Regions from separate parts of the Homo sapiens genome. Here region 2 is linked to region 1. Evidence: fine-mapped expression QTL. A gene starts in region 1. The other region holds a variant in brackets. All regions are shown on one strand. Distances are between the middles of the regions.

Region 1 (11,555 bases):
AGCCCCTTCCCTTTACTTTGGGAGGTGTATCTTGACATGCCCCAGATCAATAGAAATTTGAATTTCTGTCCCACCCTCTGGCATGCATGCGTCTTACTGAAATGCTGACAGTAGACACTAATTCCTGCTCATCAGATCCAATCAGCTTGGTATCATCAAAACACTCGATGGGAGTCATAGCCTGGTGAATGGAGAGGCAGCCAAGATTTCTGCAGATCAGATTATGACATAAAATCAGAAGGTTGATAAAGTTCTGAGGTGAGAGAGTGATGGTGAATTGCTGCCCCAGCCAGCTGGAAGCAAACTGTTCCTCATGGTCTTCACTAACCACGTGTAACCACGTAGCCAGAGAACGCATTCATCAGACCAATAGCTGAATACCAGCAATGAAACCGTTTCTGAAACAGCAGCTTCACCTCTGATGAAGTTTATAATAATCCACTGTCATTCTCCCAGAAACTGCCTGTCTTCTGCACAGGCAAAATTATGTAATTTGAATGGAAATGGGGTGGGTGGGAGCAGGGGGAGTCACCATCCTGCATCTTTCATGCTTTTTTTTTTGTTTTTTTGTTTTTGTTTTTTGTTTTTTTATTTTTGAGACAGAGTCTCACTCTGTCGCCAGGCTGGAGTGTAGTGGCGTGATCTCGGTTCACTGCAACCTCTACCTCCTGGGTTCAAGCGATTGTCCTGCCTCAGCCTCCCGAGTAGCTGGGACTACAGGCTTGCGGCACCACGCCCAGCTAATTTTTGTAGTTTTAGTAGAGACGGGGTTTTACCATGTTGGCAAGGATGGTCTTGATCTCTTGACCTCGTGATCCGTCTGCCTCAGCCTCCCAAAGTGCTGGGATTACAGGCACGGTGGTTCATGTTCTTGATGGTAGCACTAAACTCTGCAATTCCTCCAGCAATGTGAAATGCCTTTTTCCTATGTTGGTAGATAGAGGCAGTTTCAGTGCCTTCTGCTTGGCTCAGAGAATCCATGTAGGGACTCTGCCAGTTTCTAGTAGATATATTCAAATGATGCATTCTGGAACTGAAGAAATAACTACAGGATTCAAGAACCCACTGGCTTATCTGAGACGAACCTATGCCCAAACTCGACTGATCATTTTTTCTATCAACTAGTATTCTAGCTGATAGACATAGTGGTATTTTAGCTCTCCAGGAATTAGTGTCAGTTCAGAGCCATTGACCCGCAATTGCTGAGTAGTCGTTATTTCCCTTTCTTCAGTGCATAGTCAATATACAACCTAGTAAATATCCATGAGATTCTTTGGGAAGGTCAGGAGGACGAGTTACAGTACAAACTCTGTGGCTCAGAGTTCAGGTGTACCTGGACCCACTTTCATTCAAGGAGCTCTGGGTCTGTGAACTGGCTCAACTCTAGGAATTGGTTGGGAGGCTGAAACTCCCTATTAAAATGATTTTTCTTTACTGCTCTTCGCCAGACCTAGAGCTTTCCTGCTTGTAAAAATCAAGTAAGGCTTCAGTAGGCTGCCATGTGTTTCAGCTCTAGGGATGCTGTCACTGACTAATCATTGCCCAAGATCTCTGAGGACAGACCATCTGGATGACTGTGCCAGTTCTGCTGCCCATGATGGCAGCTGGTCCCACACTGGCTTTGGCAATTAAGTGCCACCACTCAGTCATCAGATTCTATCATTCCCAGTGAATTCAGCGAGTAAAGCTTAATGACAGCAACTTCCCCACCATCATTACCGACCTAGACTCCCCAAGGATTAAGAAGCCCCCACCCCCGACCCCCACCGTCCTGACAAATGGACTTCTCAGTCTTGTGAGGGGGTTTTCTTCAGATTCTGAGAGCCAGAGTTAGGCGATGGGTGGACAGGTTTTACATGAAAAATCTACTCCAGCATTCTAAGCCTTTAGGAGACATTTTTCCAAAGTGTACTGAGAAAGTTCTGGCATTTCACCTGTAGAAACATGCCTAGCCATTTGAACAAGCAAACTGACTTTAGAATTGTGATGTGGTAAACCTGATTAAAAATTTTGGCCTGATCCAACATTATTTTCCTTCCAATCTAATCCAGTATCCCTTTGATCCATTCCTATATAAGTTCTACAGATTTCTGCCAATGTCACTTGGCAAAAATCTTGCAACTTTTATGGTGCGTGTTGTGCCTTATTAGGCCTCAAACCCCTCTGAACCTTACTTACCTTTCAGGGCCGGGCAGGCCGAGTCTGGGTTACAGGTCTAGAAGCAGTGACAGGTGAGGTGGGGGGTAGATCCTGAGGAGGATCCCCAGCTCTTTGCAAATCAGCTTCCACTGGTGAGGCCATCATAGATTCATCAGGCAAGATTAACCCTCTGAGTAAGCACAGGTGGATTCCTTCTACTGGCCAAAGAAGGCTCAGCAGAATTCAGGGGTTTAAGGTCTTCAGCTTCATGAAAATCTGCCCATTTGCTCCCATTCCATTCTTCAGCATCCCACTCCTTTCCAATTAGTTCTCTACCTTTACCATGAGAGACTCTGCAGAGTTGAGAATAGAATCTGCATTGTTTCAGTCACCTGCAAGCTTATACTTTGAGTTTAGCTTTCAGAAATCTTGGCTGTGTGGCTACGAGAGATAAGGGTTTCTTGCAGGGTGGCCATATAAGATTTCTGGTCCCTGGCCTGGTCTTTGAGCTGGAGAAAACCCTAAACTGATGACTTTGTTTTCCTTAAATCCAATCAGATCAGGATTTCTTGTGCCAGCCAAGATGGTGACAGCCCATTACAGTCTCTGTCTGCCACAGCTACAAATAAAAACCAGACAAGCTACCAAAAACAACTTCCTAAGGGCTTTGTTTTTTTTTTTTTAATTTTTTTTAGAGATGGGGGACTCACTTTGTTGTCCAGGCTGGTCTCAAACTCCTGGGTTTAAGCGATTTTCACAAGTAGCTGGGATTACAGGTGTGTGCCACTGCACCCAGCAACTTCCTAAGGACTCGGAAAAGTTAACAATGGCAGGAAGATTGGAGAGAGGAACCAAAACTTGAAGAACCCTATATATTTTTCAATACTCTTATATTTAGGAATAGAATCAGTCAATATAAATTGTAAATGAAATGCTTCTTCACAGCCTTTGGAGGATGGGTTATACCAGTGATTGCCAAACTTGCAGCAATAGTTAAAAAAAATTATAGGGCTGCCTCCCCGTCTCTCCCTGGAGCCCAGAATCTCCAGGAGAAACCCAGAAATATACATGTTTAACAAAACCTTGATTTCTCGAGTTAGTAAATTTAGGAAAAATGGCTTATCCAAGCAAATAGAATTGGATTTCCTAAAAATTTAGTCCTCACCCAAGCTATTTATTTTGGAGGCAAAAGAAGAGTATCTTATGACCTAGAAGACTCTAAAAATGTGGTATGAAGACTGTCTTTATTAGAAAAACCAGGGGTTAACACATCTCATTTAACAATGTGTAGGGGGTCCCCAACTACACCACTTTCCAAATAGCGGTCTTATCAGATTTTAAAATGCTGATACAAAAGTTATGATCTTATAAAATGACATTTACTTCCAACATGGTGAAACCCCATCTTTACTAAAAATATTTTAAAAACCAGCTGGGTGTGGTGGTGGGCACCTGTAATCCCAGCTACTCTGGAGGCTGAGGCCAGAGAATTGCTTGAACCCAGGAGACGGAGATGGCAGTGAGACAACACGGTGCCACTGCACTCTAGCCTCGGGGACAGAGTGAGACTCCGTCTCAAAAAACAACAACAACAAAAAACCACATGTGGTAGTTAGTTTAAAAATCACAGACCTTAGGCTAGGTAATCAGCAAATATTTGCTAAATGAGTAATAGAAACTTTGTCAATATCATAGAGGTTCTTACAATAGATTCAAAAGGTAATTGGAACCAACATGCAATAAAAAGAGATTAACACAAAAATAGATAAGTGGATTACTATTTAATGAATATTTTTGGAAAAACTCTATTTCAGTTTAGAAAAGAATGAACTGAGCTCCTATATTTTCATTCTACACATTGCAGTGAATTCCAGATGGGACTCAAAGACTTAGCAACAACAACAGAACAGAACAGAATAATTTATATTTTCTGGCTCTTGCTGGGGAAATACATTCTAAATATTGAAGAAAAAGGAAATACTTTCAGGGAATGCATTTCTGAATATATATGTAAACTTTGCAAAGCTTTTTCTGTAATGAAATCTTTTAATATTTTGGTCAAGCAACAGAATGGAGGAAAAACAAATAATAAGCAAATACTTGCTTATTAATATGTTTAGGAAACACTTGGATAACACACATACACATATGAATATATACACACACACATATATATATATGTTCTACATGATCATACTAAAATTTAGATGACACTTCGTCCAGGAAGAAATATTGAAGAAAATGCAATCATACAAACACGACATTGCCACAGGGGAAAACATAACATCCATGGTAAATATAACGATACAAAAATCTGTTACATTTAGTAAAAAGTGCAGAAAACCGGCAAGAAAAATGCAGGAGCCTGATTTTGGTAGAAAGTGGCAAAAAGGCTCTAAATGCCCAGTGCAAATGGCTTGAAATTCCATTCCCAGGCCTGGGGCTCCACATTTCCAGGGGCTCTGCTTTCCAAAAGATATGGTTCAATGTCCCCTAGGTATAGTGCCTTCGGTCTGGACTGCAGATGGAGACCTGGGTCATCCCAGAAGCTTTGTAGTGTGAGAGATCAAACTGGCTGCTCTGCCAGGCCTCACCTATTTCCAGACTGGATGATTCCTGATACTTTTACTTTTGAGCCCAAACTAACTTCTGCATGGAGGTTCAGTACAGGTCAGGTGAGTGACGAATCTCCTGACAGGGCTACAGTGAACTTTCACAAGGTTAAACCTTCTAAACTTGGGAAGCTGCTTTGCAAAAATAAATAAATAAAATAAAAATCCCTTACTCAATTGTTGACTGGGTATTATTCCGGAAACAGGAAACAGGTTTTTCATTTCTGCCAGGTTGTGCCCCAGCTTCCATTTGCTAAGCAGCTTAGGGGAACATTGGATTAAAAACCACCCGTAAAGAAAAGGCATTAAGAAATTGATTTGAACGATTTGAAATTATTATCTTGAAAGATCAAAGAAACAGTGATTATGAACACCGGCTCTGGTGGGAAGCGGTTCTTGAAAGTTAAAGCATGGGGGAACTCGAGTACTCTGGAGCATCATCAGCATCTGTACAATGCAAGTGAACTCTGGAAGCTAGACGCATGCTTTGCACGTGGACACAGACACATGCTTGCACAGGACACATTTGCAATACATACATGTTTATACATGGACACATGTTTTGCACACGCTTGCACAGGACACGCTTGCACAGGACACATGCACAGGATGCATGTTTTGTACAGGACACATGTTTTGCACATGGAAACACATATCCATGCTTTGCAAAGGGACACAGGGAAGCATGCTTACAATGGATACAAGTTTACACACGGACGCATGTTTTGCACAGGACATATGCACAGGATGCATGTTTTGCACACGGACACACACGTTTACATAGGACAAGTGCACAGGACACGTTTTGCACCGGACGTATTCTGTGCACGGGACGCACGGTTTGCAGATGCAAGCACACACACTCCTCGGCGCGACGGGCGAAGCGGGGTGGGCAGCGACAGCGGAGTCCGGACCCAGGGACAGCGCCTCCGGGAACCTCGCCAAGGCGGCGGGAACTACAACTCCCGGCTCGGTCGCCTCGGGACGACGCGCGGCCCAGCGCAGACTGGCCCCGCCCAGCGGCCCCGCGCGGCCCGGCCCAGGTCCCGGCGCCCAGAGTCGCCGCGCGGCCGCCGGTGAGCCGCATGGAGCCCCGGGCGGCGGACGGCTGCTTCCTGGGCGACGTGGGTACGTGCGGGCGCCGCGGAGGTCAGAGCGAGGCAGCGGCGCCGGCTCCTGAGGCCGGCCGCGTATCCGATGGCCTGCGCCGGGGAGGTGGTGGCGCGCCCCGCGCTGGCTCCGTGGGCGGGGGCGTTTGGCGGGGTGGGCCGCGGTGAAAGCAGGGTCCCAGTGGTGCCGCGCATCCCAGACGGGCTCTCATGTCTGGTGCCTTGTCCCAGGCCAGCGCACTGCGGGGTTGCAGTCCGTGCGGCTCGCCAGGTGTGGGGTTTCGCAACCGCAAACCCACCGAGCGCCGCGCGCCCTGGGGAAGGTGCGGGACGCGTGCGGGGCCGTTGCCCAGTGGCGGGGGAGAGCCTGGGAAACGCCCACGGTGCTCCCTCTCGGGGAAGCCAGGCGCGAGCCCACGGTAAGAGCTAAACCCCCCTCCACTGGCGCGGGTGAGGCCGTGGCGCAGTGTCCGAGCATCCTGCAGAGGCGTCCGCGTGACCCCGACTCCGCTCCAGTGAAGGTGGCCTTGGGGCACCCCGGCACACTCCGAAAAGTGCCATCCCAGTTCGCAGCCTACTTTACCAAAATCCGAGCAGCCCAAGAATGAAATGGATTTGAGGGAAGGACACTCTTTGGGGAAGCAAATTTTTTTGCTGCCTATGAAGCAATAATATGGTCACTGAAATGAGCGACGGAAGCACTATGAAAGCCTAAAAAGAAAAAAAAAATCTAAAGCATATTCATCCTGGTAAAAACAGTAGTGCACCTAAGAGGGAAAAGTCTTAAGGGTAAATTTAGCTGAAGAGGAAGTTGCAGTCATAGCAAGGCAAAGATATTTTAATTGACTTTGCAAAATAACCACCTTTGACATGATCAAAGGTATCTAATAAGCATGTGTTTTTACTTGGCATTCCAGTCCAGGCAAGCACAAGACTTTGACCCTGACACTGTGATCTGCATTTGATTAGCTTAATTGAGTAAGCAGTGAATAGCTAACGGCAGAAGCTTATTTAAACACATATTTTAATATTTCTGTTCATGGCATCACTTCTGAGCATGTCTTCTGCATCGTTTGTTATGGAATGCATCTGTAGAAGAAAGGCACATTTTAAACTAATGAATCCGCAACTTTTGAGGTTCACTGGTATTTTTGACATTGTCATTTTTTATTTAATATATTTCTCCCCAAATAAGTTCTGCTGATGTTTTTTATTCCCAGTGTAATGAATAAGCTGAATGTGTTGGATCCAAAACAATACTGCCATTCCAGCAGCACCAGAGGCGAACCGTAGGAGCTTTAGACAATTTTAACATTCTGACCTCAAATTCTGGATGTGTGGTGTACCGCGACCAAAACATTTAGGTTTTGGGCTGTTGCGCAGTCTCTCATGCCTGTAATGCCAGCACTTTGGGAGGCCGAGGCAGGTGGATCACTTGAAGTCAGGAGTTCGAGACCAGCCTGGCCAACATGGCGAAACCCCGTCTCTACTAAAAATACAAAAATTAGCCGAGCATTGTGGCGGGTGCCTGTAGTTCCAGCTACTTGGGAGACTGAGGCAGAAGAATCACTCGAACCTGGAAGGCAGAGGTTGCAGTAAGCCGAGATTGGGCCATTGCACTCCAGCCTGGGTGACAAGAGCAAAACTCTGTCTCAAAATAAATAAATAAAAATACAAAAATTAGCCAAGCATAGTGGCGGGCACCTGTAATCTCAGCTACTGGGGAGGCTGAGGCAGGAGAATCACTTGAACCTGATAGGCAGAGGTTGTAGTGAGCTGAGATCATGCCATTGCACTCCAGCCTGGGCGACAGAGTGAGACTCCGTCTCAAAAATAAATAAAATAAATAAATAAAGAAATAAAGAAATTCTGCATTCCCTATGGACGTCCTTCTGTGGTAGATGAACCTCTAACCTACTGGCTGCTCCCCCACTCCCCCGTACGTTCCCCCCAGGGTCCTCCAGTAGAATTGTTTTTGTTTAAATCAGATTTCAGTGTTGACATTATTGTGACTGTGAATATTGCAGCTGAGCCACTTGCTATGTGGGGACTATGTTTCTCTTTTTGTGTAATGTCTTGCTTTTCTTGGACATGGCGGGTGTTCTTTTTGTTTACCTGTGGGTTCGGTGTTCTCCATGCCTAATCCCTAATTTATCCCCAGACAGTCTTCTTAGGCCCCTCAGGTAAGCAATGAGTCCTGTGTTCTCTCTCTCCTGGTTCAGTGTTTGGAGACGTGTGCCCTGCAGCCTTGGGTCTTCCAGCTCTGCCTGCTGCTGCTCTGGGAAGCCGGGGTGGGGGTGGGGCAGGGGTGTCTTCCTGTTGTTTATGGGGATTTGCGCATCCCTTTGCGTTCAGTGCCCTCCCAGGGGTAGTTCAGATTCCCTGCTCTTTGCTGGTCCCAACCCCGGGTGCCAAGCCCGCCTTCTGTATCCTGGTTAGCCACTGCACCAGCCTGCTCTCCAGCTCCCCCGATGGTCTGGAAATCACTCCCCAGCCTGTTTGTTTTCTACTTGTTTATATGGATTTATGTCTCCCCATCCAGGTACTCTCAGTTGAGTGAGATCTTTGCTGAGGGGCAGAGAAGATCCTCCGTGTTTAATCAGAAACACAGCTCTATCGCTCTTGATTTCAGTGTCAGAGCGGGGAGAGGGAGAATCCACTAGGGTAGCAGTCCAGGGCATTTCTAAAGGGTAGAGAGTTACTTGGAGTGGGCGGCTATTTTATCCTAAAATAGGAATTCAAAGAGGGCCTGTTGACACACCAGAAAAGCCTATTTAGGGCCAATGGAAGTATCAGAGGAAATTAGCAAGTTACAAAGGCTTAGGAAGCATGTTTATGGGCAAAACAGTACCTCTATCCTCCTCCTCGACTCGGCAGCCCTGGGAGACATTGCCTGCTGTCCTAAGGAAACTGAGGCTTAGGTGATTTAGGGTGAAAAGCGTCCCTCAGGTCCCTTAACTGAGACAGGGAGGATGCAGGATCAGAGCTCAGGGGTCCTGAGTCAGGGCCTGAGCTCCCACAGTGCCTTGAGGGTGGGACTGGGGGACCCTCCCCATGCTCCCTGGGCCATAGCCTTTGGGGTGGACCAGGGGCAAGGGAGGAGTCGGGGTAGCAGATAATTGGGTGAGTGATGAGGGAGTCAGGGGAGGAGACATTGAAGGATAATGCAGCGAATCCAGTGTGGTTTTAGCGTCCTGCAGGTGGAAGGAAATGCCTGTTATTCACCAAGCTCTCCTGACACCTTCGGTCCTTTCTCCCAGTTCCTTTACTCCTTAGCCCACCTATTTTCACCTCTTTTCTCCTTGTCTTCTGCTTTCATTTATTCTTTCCCTTTCTTTTCTCCACTCTTACTGAGTTTTGACCATTTTGTCCCTCTAAGAAGGCAAATACTGGCATTTTTGCTTCATTGAACACATCTTAAAATCAGTCTGCTGTTTGACCTCAAGTTTACCGACAAACTATATTTTGGGGATTCATAATGAAAACATTTAAAAAGACATGGTTGAAAAATATCACTGTAGCAACAAAACACTGAGCCCAGACTTGTAAGTGGGAGTTTCTACATAGAAAAATAAAGATCCATATTTTTTTTCCTTGGGTTTCAAGGACACTAAAACTGAAATTTGAGCTGCGCTATTAAAATTTGGTGATAGTGGTTAAGTGCCATGCGTTAGGCACCCTCTTTGTGCTGGGGTTGTCACGTACACTGTCTTTAGTTGTCACCATGAGATCCTTCATTTATCTTTTCCTCTGTGGTCTCTTTGTCTTTGTGGATTTAGCCCCCATTTTATTCCCTTACCGTCACTTGTGTGTGGTTTGGACAGCAGGCAGAGATGAATGGATGCTACATTTGGCTTTTTCTGGGAGTGTTAATCATCCAGGATCTCATCTCTTCTCTTCTCTTCTCTTCTCTTCTCTTCTCTTCTCTTCTCTTCTCTTCTCTTCTCTTCTCTTCTCTTCTCCCCTCCCCTCCCCTCCCCTCCCCTCCCCCCCCCTTCTCGACAGAGTCTCAGTCTGTCGCCCAGGCTGGAGTGCAGTGGCACGATCTCAGCTCACTGCAGTCTCCACTGCTTGGTTCAAGCGATTCTCCTGTCTCAGCCTCCTGAGTAGCTGGGATTATTACTGGGATTACAGGTGCATGCCACCACACCCAGCTAATTTTTGTATTTTTAGTAGAGATGGGGTTTTGCCATGTTGGCCAGGCTGATCTCGAACTCTTGACCTCAGGTGATCCGCCTGCCTCAGCCTCCCGAAGTGCTGGGATTACAGGCGTGAGCCACTGCGCCCAGCCCATCGTCCAGCATTTCTAAGGCCTTTTCAGTTCTGACAGTCAGCGCGTGTTCATGAATCCTTAGCTTTCTGGGACCCTGGGGGGCTATGTCACTCAGGACTCTTGACTTTTCCCTGAGAGCTGAGGATGAGCCCATTGAGAGCAGCATCAGAAAACCCTCCCTGGGGGCTTCCGGTGCCTGCCTTGGTTCTTCCAGGGTGGGTTCCCCAAGTGTGTGCTCGCCCGCCCCAGCCCGGCTTTATGGGTGGGTCAGGGTGGAGGGCCCACCCTCACCATTTCAAGAATGCTTACTGGGGTTTTGCAGGGAGGGCTTCTTACAGAGGCTGCTGGTTGTTTTTGACGCAGAAATGACATTTCTGCAGCCAGGACCCCAGACTCCCCTTGGTGATTTACTCGGAACAAAATTTCTGACTCCAGCAACATTTAAGAGTGCATTCTGGGCTGGGCCTGGGGCTCATGCCTGTAATCCCAGCACTTAGGGAGGCCAAGGCGGGAGGATCACTTGAACCCAGGAGTTTGAGACCAGCCTGGGCAACATGGTGAAACCCTGTCTCTACAGAAAATACAAAAATTATCCAGTGTGGTGGTGGTGCATGGGCCTGTAGTCCCAGCTACTTGGGAGGCTGAGGTGGGAGGATCACTTGAACCTAGGAGGTTGAGGCTGCAGTGAGCCCTGATCACACCACTGCACTTCAGCTTGGGTGACAGCGAGACCCTGTTTCAAAAATAAATAAATAAACAATAAGAAAACAAAATAGGAAAAAAGGTGCATCTTGGGTATTTGACCTGGATTCAAAGCCAGCATGCTACTGGATCAGCTTTGTCTGGAAGGTGTCCCTGGTGGCATTTGAGAATGCTCTTTGTTGGAGTGGGCCCTGACCCTGGAGAGGCCCCAGGCTCGGCGGGGCGGGGTTGGGGGCAAGTGGCTCTGCTGCTTTTATGGTTGCAGTCCCTGTGTGGGTCAAGTGAGGCCCGCCAGTGTGGGTGCAGGCAGGGCAGTGTGGAGGATGGGCTCTGGAGGTGCCCAGCTCTGCAGTGTGCAGGGGCCAGCAGGCCAGCTGCCTCCTAGACACAGGCTCTCTAGGGGGTGGCCGGGCCTGGGCACAGAGCTGCCACTTGGGCCCAACGAGTGGGGCTCTGGCTCTGGGATGACTGAGGAGATACTGGCAAACCAGCTGCCTAGGGGGAAAATAAAGAAAAAGAAACAAAAATAAAAGTCTGCTTTGCTGCTTTCCCTGGTCTAAATACTCACATCCTGGCTGCTTTCAAGCTGCTGGTGGTCTCCGGCCAGCAGAACCTGGCTGTGCAGCAGCCAGCTGGCGAGATGGCCCGGCACACTGCTGGGTGGCTTGCAAGGCAGGGAGCGATGGAGGGGCTCTGGTCTCAGAGGGCCCGGGAACTGAG
Region 2 (11,555 bases), 27 kb after region 1:
TGTAGGCAGTGAGGCGAGTCCAGGAACCAGATTGTATTTGCAAAGGAGGAGGGCTGGGGAGGGTGAAAGTCCGGTTATGATGGTGAAGTAATTTTTAATCTGATCACTGACAGTGAATGTTGAACTCTGCCAGGAGTGTTCGGAAGCGGCTCCCTGAGGACGGTCCTGCTTCCACCTTTGTTCTTAGCACTGGCCCTGGCACAATTTAAAAAATTTTTTTAAAATTGTTGTTTAATTTTTAAAAAATTTTTTAATTATAATTTTTTAAATTTAATTTTTTTTTTCAATTTCTCTTGTGGTAACAAGCACCTATTGAGCTATTTGTGTTTATGTTCCAGGATTGTGCCAGTCTTGGCGTGCTAAGGTCTTAGGCGGTCCCGTCACGTCACTGGCCACGGGTTCTCTGAATCCACTTTAATCCTATTTTGTGTTGAAAGCAGGATTTTGGTAATGAGCCTGTGTTGACCCCTTTTCTCTGAAGCACGAAGTTCAGAGCTTTTAATTCCCTGCTTGTTTCCTGGCTCCCTGTCTTTGTCTCTCTCTGTCTCTGTGTCTCTGTCTCTGCCTCAGTCTTTCTCTTGCCTCTCAGTTCAAGGTATGTTACCATCCTTGCTTCACACAAAGTTACTTTCTTTCCCTCTCCTACCCTCTTTCTCTCTTCCTTCTTTCCTCTGTATCTGTTCCCTTCTTTCTTTCTTTTTTTTCTGAGATGGAGTCTCGTTCTGTCACCCAGGCTGGAGTGCAGTGGTGTGATCTCTGCTCACTGCAGCCTCCATCTCCCTGGTTCAAGCGATTCTCATGCCTGAGCCTCCTGAGTAGCTGGGATTATAGATGTGCACCACCACGCCCAGGTAATTTTTGGATTTTTAGTAGAGACGAGGTTTCACCATATTGGCTAGGCTGGTCTTGAACTCCTGACCTCAGGTGATCTGCCCGCCTCAGGCTCTCAAAGTGCTGGGATTACAGGCATGAGCCACCGTGTCTGGCCCTGTTTTCCTCTAACGAGTACCTGTTTATGTTCTCTTTCTCACTATGGGCCTCACTCTGTCATCCAGGCTGGAGTGCAGTGGTACGATCGTGGCTTGCTGCAGCCTCAACCTCCCGGGCTCAAGTGATCCTCCTACCTCAGCCTCCAGAGTAGGTGGGACCACAGATGTGTGCCATCACGCCCCCCGGGTAATTTTTAAATTTTTGTAGAGCTAGGGTCTCACTATGTTGCGCAGGCTGGTCTCGATTTCCTGGGCCCAAGAGATCCGCTCGCCTCGAATTCCCAAAGTGCTGAGATTACAGGCGTGAGCCCTGTACCTGGCCCAAGCATATATTTTTAATGAACATAGCTGATCGAGTTTCATCTCTGACTCTCTTCTTGGCTCACTCAGTGCTATACTTTCAGGATCCATCCATGTAGCTGCCTGCACCCCTGGCCTGGTGTTTCCCTTCAATCCCTTATTCACAATTTCATTTCCTTCCTTATTCACCTTCCTTCCCTTCCACCCAATCAAATGATGCCAAACACACATTTTGAAAAGATGTACATTGGGAAGGCTGCCTCCCTGCAAGAGCCCCTGGCCAAGGCCTCGTCTGTGGAGCGTGGCAGGGAGCGTGATTTTTAGAGCTCTTTCCAGCCATGGTTTTCTCCCTGATCGTGAGAGAGTAGCTGTGCCTCCCTTGGGCCTCTTTCTCTGTTTTTCTTCTTTTGTTAAAATAGAGACCATCTCTTTCTCTCCCAATTGGCAAGAATATTGCCAGAATTAATGACATGAGAGAAAGCTACTTGAACTTTAGATTCTGTGGATGGTACAATTTGTTTTTCATTACAAGCATATGTTTAGTGTTAAAATTTACTTCGTGTTATGATTGCAACATTATACTGGAGGAAAACCCCTTATGTGAAAGAGAGGTTGAATTGTGGGGAAATATTTCTTTAATCTATTGCTTTTGAATATTATTTTTTTGTAGTACATTTCTGCCAAATTCAGGACATAGATAAGTTAGCATTTTTCCTAGTTGAGAGATCCTTTTCCTGTTCTGACTTCTGAGTTTTGGCTGCGGGAAGTGGAAAGAACTTTCTTAAATTATGTCATCACTTTGGAGGGCTGGGGCGTTCTTAGGATCCCTCCACGAATGCTGTTATGAGCATGGTTCTTATGTGCTTTTAGGGGATTAAAATATTTTAAAGCAGAAAGCGGGATTTTTCCGATGCTTTTTGAGCTAGAGGAACTAGAAAATGTAAAAGCGTTCCACCTCTCAGCTCCTCTTTTGACCCTCTGAGACTGTCGGGAAGTGATGGCATGCTAGTGTCTGATTGTTTTAAAATCCCACTTTTGATAATACTTTATGTTTGTGGTTTGAATCTATCATTTGGCGAATTATTTTACTGATGCTGGGCGATTTGCTTGGCTTCTTTAAAACACTTCTCTTTTATTTGTTTTCTCTTATAACCTCCTTTGTTACTTGAGGAACAGACTTCGAATAAAATGGCATTTTCTTTCAAAAGAATTCTGAAGCCCTGGGGGATTCCATTGTATCGGATCAGTGATGGCTGTGCCCTAAGAATGATGTGTTACAAAAATCATATTTTTATCAAAATTTTTTTTAGTGTGTTGCAAAATGCCATATGTGACCAGGTGTGGTGGCTCATGCCCGTAGCCAGGAGTTCGAGACCAACCTGGCCAACACGGCAAAACCCCGTCTCTACAAAAAATAGAAAAATTAGCCGGGCATGGTGGCACACCTGTCATCCCAGCAACTCGGGAGGCTGAGGCAGGAGAATCGCTTGAACCCTGGAGGCGGAGGTTGCAGTGAGCCGAGATCATGTCACTGCACTCCAGCCTGGGCAACAGAGTGAGACTCTGTCTCAAAAAAAAAAACCCAAAACCAGCCATATTTAGCTACTAATTCCTTGCATCTTTCTGAATGTCTGCTCTTTTTTTTAAAAAAAAATTTTTTTTTACCTTTACTTTTAATCAGCTTGATGAATGTCTGCTCTTATCGTGAGAAAGTTGAGGAGTGCAGAGCTTACTCTCTTCTCTGAATTGCCTACTGTTTTGGGTACGTTATCTGTTTTCCTTTTGTAAAAGAATATGCATTGTTAAGGAACATTTATTCTTTCATTCAACCAGTATTTCTGGAGCCTCCGTCCTGGGCCCGCAAGAGGAAGAAGCAGTGTGTGTCTGTGCTGGAGGCCAGGCGGGAGTGCTTGAGTGGCTCTGGTTTGAGCTTCCGGAAATCTCAGGACCCCTGAAGGCAGATTGATAGGGCATTAGAACGGTTGTTTAACTCAGGACATTTTTCGTTTTATTTTTCTTCTTTTCGGTTCTATTTCTAGTTATTTCTTTATTATTGCTGCCTACCTTTATCTCTCATGAGTGGGGACAGTAAGTAGTTCCTGCTTTTGGATGTTGAAAAACATTTTTGAAAGCTACGGTAGAGTCTGTCCTGATTTTGTCTTCTGGGTGGGGATTGCTTCTGCCACCGTGCTGTGTGACGAAACGGACCTGATTGTCCCCCTGACTTCAAGTTCTCTTCTTGGTGAAATCTCTTCTGCACTCTTGACCTCCAGGGGCCAACGTGAATGCGGCAAAGCTTCATGAGACTGCCCTTCACCACGCGGCCAAGGTCAAGAATGTTGACCTCATCGAGATGCTTATCGAGTTTGGCGGCAACATCTACGCCCGGGACAACCGCGGGAAGAAGCCGTCTGACTACACGTGGAGCAGCAGCGCTCCCGCCAAGTGCTTCGAGTACTACGAAAGTGAGACACCCCACCGAGCGCACCCCATCCCCTCCAGCCTTCAGCCTGGACCCCTGACGTGCCGGCTCCCTGTGGGCTTCCGCGGAGAGCTGGGCTGTTAGTCCTGGCTCCTGTCCTCTGCGCTAGGACAGACCCTTAAGCACTTTGCGGGGGCTGTTTGTGCTGTTGCCCCAGCTCTCCCTGGGTTCCCTGTGGCCCGTGGCGTGGAGCAGCAGAAGCTGTGGCCGACACCTGCCCGGGCACCAGACCTGTGCCTCCTGTGCTGGACATTTGACAGATGAGCCTCCTAGCTGCAGATTAGTTGTTTGATGACAAGTTTGGGTGCTGAAATATAATGCCGTGTCTCAAAAAACCAAAACCATGGTTTTGAAAAGGCGCAGTGGCTCACACCTGTAATCACAGCACTTTGGGAGGCTGAGGCGGGCAGATCACCTGAGGTCAGGAGTTCGAAACCAGCCTGGCCAACTTGATGAAACCCCATCTCTACTAAAAATATAAAAATTAGGCGGGCATGGTGGTGGGTGCCTGTAATCCCAGCTACTCGGGAGGTTGAGGCAGGAGAATTGCTTGAATGCAGGAGGCGGAGGTTGCAGTGAGCTGAGATTGTGCCGCTGCACTCCAGCCTGGGTGACAGAGTAAGAGATTCTTGCCTCTGTCGCTTTTTTTCTGTCTCAAAAAACAAAAAACAAAAAACCTCAAAACCAAACAAACTCCCAAAGCCCACAAAAGGCAATCCCAGTGGACATCATGCCCCGAACTTCATTTCCTGGGCTCCCTTCCTCGGGTTCCTGGCTGTCCTTCCAGAGAAGGCCTACAGGACACATCCCGGTTCCAGGGGAAAGGGAGGCGTTTCCGATTCCCTCTGAGTTTGTGTTCCATTGCAGGTGTTGTGCTTCTTCCTGAAATTAACCTCACATCCTTCCTTGCTCCCTTTTTCAGAGACACCTCTGACTCTGTCACAGCTCTGCAGGGTGAACTTGAGGAAGGCCACTGGCGTCCGAGGGCTGGAGAAGATTGCCAAGTTAAACATCCCGCCCCGGCTCATTGATTACCTCTCCTACAACTGAATTGCAGGTGGGGTCCGGACCGTGGCTGCCCCCGTTGTGCCCAGCATTGCCCGGGTGAGGGCTCTGCCTGTTCCTCTGAAGCAGCGTGATTGCTGTAGATAGAACAACGCTCCTTCGAGTCCCTTCCTGCGATCCTGTTTAGGCTTCTCTCCTGGATCCTGGATAATGTTTCCAGGGTGTTGGGAAGGCCTGCGTCTCAGGTCACAGTTGTGGGTGTGGCCCTGCGCTGTTCTACAGAACCTACCCTCTCAATGGGCATGGGCCCAACCATCCAGTTTTCCTCTTTTACGGACCATCCTCAAAGGCACTCTCAGGACAGACGGCGTGGGGAGCACAGAGGAGGCTGGCAGAGCTGGGGACTGAGGGCATTGTTGCTGATTCTCACTCACCGGGGCAGCCTGCCGCAGATGCACAGGCCCCAGGTGCAGGCCACCACCTCCGGGTCGGCACCAGGACTGCCCTCGGTGCTCATAGGGAATGGCTGGGCCCACGGAAGGTCGGCCTGGGATGTGGCCTGGGACTGCTGCTCTGCTGGCTGCTGTGTGGATGCTTTTCCTGGAGCACTTTCCAAGGCATCCCCCAGCCCCAAGCCTGCGCGCATCTGTCACTCAGGGACTTTCTATGGGTCTTTGTGGGGGAAGGCCCTGGCTTTGTATTCCCCACAAGTAGCACTGAGTTTCTTAGGAAATTTGTCTTCAGTATTAGGTCTCCAACTCTTGTAAAAAGTTTATATGTAGGATAAAAACCTTTTAGAGGACACGTAGGCGGTACCACTAAGGTTTTGGTAATGAGCCATTCAAACCGACAGCAGTGTGAAGGTGTGTCAAGGTGTATATTCTCGTGGCTCGGCATTCTCAGTGCAAAGGCCTGTTTGGAGACTCTGTGGGAATTGTTTTTCATCTGTTTCTATGGTTGTCAAATGAATTCTTCACCCACCCTACAGTTTGCTAACTCCTTGAAGCTATCAAATTAGTAAGACCATCTATCACATCCAGCATTGTCCCAGTGCTTTGAGTTGGACGGGAATGGGACTCTGCAGCCAAGGCAGGATAAGAAAATCTTGCAATCCCGTCCTGCAGTGATAGAAACAGGTCGTTCTGCATTATAAGCCATAGGTGGAGCATTCGGTAGCGTATTCAGACTGCATGGGCCGGCCTAGGAGTCTTTGCCTTCATAAATTTTAAGAACCCCGCCCACAACAGGGAGTTAAACTGGAGGACTTTGCATGATTAGTTCAGGGATGAGTGGTTTCTGGGGCATCTGAGGTCAGGAGTTTGAAACCAGCCTGGCCAACTTGATGAAACCCCATCTCTACCCATTCTGGAGAACAGGTCACGCCTGTCCTGGAGACAGTGTGCCGGGAAAAGGGAACGTGGTACTCACTGGATGCACCCAGGCCGGCCCGAGCCTCCCACCGCAGACAGTGTGGAACAGAGTGAGCCTGAGCTGCCCAAGGCGATGCCCTTTGTGCTGTATGACTGGAGGCCTCTCCGCGTGGGTACTTGGGGGTGGGGCCACAAATCTGGCGAAAAACTTCATGCTGGCCGCCGTGAGGTTTTACTCCAGCGTTCCCGCCATTGTCATGGCGGGTCTTCGTCCTAAACTGAGAAGAAAAGCATTCCTGTTTGATCAC[C/T]GCCTTAGTTACCAGTTCTGGATCAGTCAGTGTTTCTGCATGGAATAACAACCATTAAAAAAAGCACTGGGTTCTGCCCTTTCATCTTTGTAAGAGATTCTTGCCTCTAGCAATGACAACCTGTGATGTCTCACAGTAGAGCACTTAGCGCAGAATCAGGTCCCCACGGCTGTTGCTCAATAAAAGTGGCGGAATAAAGTGCATCCCTGTGTTCACACGACTCTTTTCTTATGGGGCAGAAACACCAAGATGGGCGCATCCTGTGTGGATGGAGAGGGGTGGCTCTCGTCTTGCTGTGTCCCAGGTCGTTTGGCAGCGCTGTGCTTGCCAGGGAGCCACACTTTCCCATCTCTTCCCCAGGTCTCCTGATGCCAACTTCAGCACCCCCCTTATGTGGACTTTTCTTGGGGGAGACAGACGCTGTCCACGGGACCAGGTGACTGGGATTTTGGGTCCTCCCCTGCCCTTATGCAGGGCTGTGACTGCACACAGGTTTATCTGCTTCTCTACTCTGAGTTGTTCCGGAAAGCTGCAAAACCGAGATAATGGATCAGACTTGGAGCATTGAAGGGGTCTTGATGACCAACCACTGAGCCAAGCCCGTCACCTCAGGTGGACGAGATTGGGTCCCCAGCGTCAGGTTTTGTGTTTTTTTTTTTTTTTTTTGAGGTGGAGTCTCGCTCTGTCGCCCAGGCTGTAGTGCAGTGGCACGATCTCGGCTCACTGCAAGCTCCGTCTCCTGGGTTCACGCCATTCTCCTGCCTCAGCCTCCTGAGTAGCTAGGACTACAGGCACCCGCCACCACACCCGGCTAATTTTTTTTTTTGGTATTTTTAGTACAGACGAGGCTTCACCATGTTAGCAAGGATGGTCTCGATCTCCTGACCTCGTGATCCTCCTGCCTCGGCCTCCCAAAGTGCTGGGTTTACAGGTGTGAGCCACTGCGCCCGGCCGCCTCAGGTTTTTATGAGGCTGAAATTAAATGATTGAAAGATGCCTTGGCTGGGTGGGGTGGCTTATGTCTATAATCCTAGCACTTTGGGGAGCCAAGGTGGGCAGATCACTTGGGCCAGGAGTTTGAGACTAGCCTGGCCAAGATGTTGAAACCCTGTCTCTACTGAAAATACAAAAATAAGCCAGCTGTGGTGGTGTATGGTTGTAATCCCAGCTAGTCAGCAGGCCGAAGCAGGAGAATCGCTTGAACTTGGAAACGGAGGTTGCAGTGAGCCAAGATCGTGCCACTGCACTCCAGCCTGGGAGACAGAGTGAGACTCTGTCCCCACAAAAAAGAAAAAAAAAAGATGCCTTGAAAAGCCTAAAGTGGTCCCCAAATATGAAAGTTACATTGACTGTTGTGTGGTTTTGTTGATGTTTGTAGATCTTGCAGCTGTGTGAACTATTCCCGCCTTAAGATCATACCATCTATTTCAGGAGTCCTGCAGTCATAAGACTTCTCAGTTTACATTTTCAAATGCAGTGTGCAGTGGACAGATTTGGAGCAGATGTTTGCAACATATATAACAAGTAATTGGCAAGCAAAATATATAAAGATCTTATGATAGATCATTAAAATGGGCCAGGTGCTGTGGCTTATGCCTGTCATCCCAGCACTTTGGGAGGCTGAGGCTGGAGGATTGAGCTTAGGAGTTTGAGACAAGCTTGGGCAGCCTAAAGAGACCCCATTTCTACAAAAAAGAAAAGATAAACAACCCAATAGAAAAAAACTGGGCAAAGAATAAGAACAGGGCTTTATAAAAGAGGGATCTTGAAATGTCCACTCCCAGGAAAGGATGCTGAGAAGTGATCAGGGAAATTCAAATTAATATTTAATTCAACAAAGTGATTACCATTGAATGTCGCCATTGAGACAGTCATTGAAAGGTCTGAGTTTCACAGTGTGGATGGGTGGGCCATGTGGGCAAATGGAAATGCACAGGCTGCTAGTGGGGAATACATTGATGATAGGTCTGTTTTGGAGAGCTATTGGCTGATATTAATGCAATGAAAAATGTGCATACCCCTTGTCCCCAGTAATTCTACTTTATATAAATAATACCCTAAAGAAACTCTCAGGCAATATCACAAGGAGACATGTATGAGGTTGTTTACTGCAGCGATACCTGTAATAGTGAAAACCCCACCAGTTGGGAGTAAGATGTAGAATATCATATACATCTTACATGTCATACCTACACTCGATAAAAGTTAAGATGGATTAGAACTACACGTTTTAACACGAATAGATCTCAAAAATATAGTGGTCGATCAAACAATTGCCAGACTTTTCTGTGTATGGTATGAGTCAATTTGTATAATTTTTTTAAAAAGCCCATCTAATAATTCATACGTATGCAGTAAATACATAAAATCATGGAAACCACACACTGGCATCATGGGGATACCAGTGGCTTGGGGATAGGAACGCAGGGAACTTCACCTCTGTTGTATTGCATTTCTTAAAAAGTGATGTTGGCCAGGAAGAGTGGCTCACGCCTGTAATCCCAGCACTTTGGGAGGCTGAGGCGGGAGGATTGCTTGAGCTCAGAAGTTCGAGACCAGCCTCGGCAACATAGTGAGACCCTATCTCTAAAAAAAAAAAAAAAAAAAAAAAGATACGAAGCACATGATAGAATGCTACTATTTGCTCATGTTGGGGGGCAAATAGAAACATGGGGTTACTCTCCATGTGTTTTGATGTTTGATTTTTTCATAATAAAAATTGAATGCATAGAGGAACAACGAAGGGCAAAAAAACCAAAAAATTAGAAACTCGGTTGTGCTTACAAACACCTTTCAGATTCCTGTTGGCCACAACGGCATGGTTTTGGTTATAGGAGCTTGTATTCCACAGTGGGTGTTGACACTTTTTTTGGAACTACTCTCAGACAAACTAGGTATGCAAAGCCCTGTGTCCTGAGGTTTGTCTCACAGAGCCGACCCTCATCTCCTCTGTAGGAAAGTGCTGGGTAAAATGCCTCTCACTGATTGGCCTCGCTGCGCTGGTATGGCTCCCTCCCTGGACAATGGTGCGTCTTCTAGGTCTGGCTCTGGGCAAAGTCCCTGGTATCAAACCCTCCCCTTTGGAGAGGTCATAATTGAGGGGCCATTTCACAGTAAGAAAATGCAGCTGCACCCTCTGTCCCCAGCCCGTGGAGGCGGGGTGCTGCCCACCTTCTGCAGGTGGGAGGCGTCGTGAGGGAGACAGCAAGAGACCCCAGTGGGATCCCCAGTGGGATCTCTTGCTCAGCTCTGGGCTCCCCGTGGTCTTCCAGGGAGGGAGTGGAATCTCGTCTACTCCTGGACCATAGCAATGCTCCCTGTGGTATCCCATCTGTGCTACCAGGTGAGTCTGCAGAGAGCTCTGAAGTCATTTGGGATGAAAAGAATGCCTTTCCCTGTCCATTTCATGCCCTGGGCCACTTTGTTAAACTGCTTGTGCTTTCTCTCCAGTGGGCAACACCTGTTTCTTCTAGGCAGTTGAGTTCCTTTATTCGGAAAAACGAGCGTAAGACTGGCTCTGAGAACAAAGCTGGACAGCTTGCTCATCTTTCGAGCAGCTGTGCCGTGGAGAGATGAAGGTGGGGCGCACAGGGCCCTGGCAGGGGCTGTGCCCCCTGTAATGGCTGAGAAAATATTTCCAGACCCTGGAGTCTTTGCCTTTTCTCTTTTCTCCACATTAGCACCACATGACAGTGACAGCGAGGCCTCAGTGATTTTGGCTTGAAGGTCTTGTGATCTCCGACAAGTTGAATGAAAAGATGTCTTAAATTGGTCCAATCTAAAGAGTGCCTCCTTTTTCTCCAAACCATGAAAAAAGGCAGAAAAGATGGATGATAGGCCTCTCTGCCTGTCTCTGTCTCTCTCTCTCTCACGCACCTGTGTACACATTTATTCGTTCAAATACAATTTCACTCTAGCATCTGGCCTCCAGGTGTGCGGTTGTTGTGCACACGGACTTCATGGCTGGGGAGAATCTGCCACTGGACGCTGAGCCAGGATGTGCACTTAGCTTCACCATCTGCACTCTGAGTGATCAACAAAGAAAAGTCCCTCCGTTCTTGGTGTGAATCCAAATCCCGAAGCTTGTTCCACTGTGCTGGGGACAGAGGGTAAGACCAGAGGAGAAGCAGGGACATCCTCTTGCTCCTTGGTCCTCTTCCCCATCTTCCCCATCCAAGCCCACCCATCTTCTTCTTTCCTTTTTTTACCAGTTGTTCTATTTTAAGTTCTCTGCTGGGCACTAATGATATGAGAACACATAAAAGCAAATCTTGGCCCCGAGCATCTCAGAGTCTGTTTTTCAGGGAGCAGGTATAGGAACAGATGTTGCACCTCATCATGTGGTGAGCTGGGGGATGCTGTGGTCTGAATGTCTGTCTCTCCCCAGATTCCTGTGTTCAAATCCCCACCCCCACAGTGATGGTATTAGGATGTGGAGCCTCTGGGTGCTGATTAGCTATGAGGGCAGAGCTCTCTTGAAAGGGACCAGTGCCCTTAGAAAAGAGGTGCCAGGCCTGGTGCACTGGCTCACACCTGTAATCCCAGCACTTTGGGAGGCCAGGGTGGGCTGATCACTTGATGTCAGGAGTTTGAGACCAGCCTGACCAATATGGTGAGACTCCGTCTGTAGTAAAAATACACAATTAGCCAAGCATGGTGGCGGGCGCCTGTAATCCCAGCTACTTGGGAGACTGAGGCAGGAAAATCGCTTGAAGCTGGGAGGCAGAGGTTGTAGTAAGCCGAGATCGTGCCACTGCACTCCAGCCTGCACAATAAGAGTGAAACTCTGTGTCAAAAATAAAAATAGGTGCCAGAGAGCTGCCTTGCCCCTTCAGGCAGATGAGGACACAGAAAGAAGTCGCTGTCTATGGAGAAGAGAGCAGTCATCACCAGGCAGGGATCCTGGACTTCTCAGCCTCTAGAACTTTGAGAAATAGATTTCTGTTGTTTAAAAACCACCAGTGTTTAGGTTTTGTTTGCTTTTATTTGAGCCGGGGTCTTGCTCTGTTGCGCAGGCTGGAGTGCAGTGGCATGATCTCAATCTCCTAGGCTGAAGTGATCCTCCCACGTCAGCCTCCTGAGTAGCTGAGGCTACAGACGT

Evidence for each region.
Region 2: its variant is fine-mapped to the expression of ASB13 in whole blood (TOPMed, PIP above 0.99). The same link has a PIP of 0.9 or more in tibial artery.

The regions. Positions count from the first base shown.
Region 1 is chr10:5,660,833-5,672,387 of GRCh38, reverse strand. It overlaps ASB13 (ankyrin repeat and SOCS box containing 13), which reads left to right and starts at 5,793. Exons shown (of 6, transcript NM_024701.4): 1 at 5,793-5,879. The coding sequence starts at 5,837. RefSeq lists silencers at 5,790-5,859, 6,160-6,209 and an enhancer at 10,644-11,380.
Region 2 is chr10:5,633,969-5,645,523 of GRCh38, reverse strand. ASB13 (ankyrin repeat and SOCS box containing 13) reads left to right here. Exons shown (of 6, transcript NM_024701.4): 5 at 3,563-3,754; 6 at 4,694-6,657. The coding sequence ends at 4,821. Among named protein-coding and RNA genes, the nearest start is that of LINC02677, 22 kb to the right of the region's middle. The variant C/T (reference allele first, on the strand shown) is at 6,455.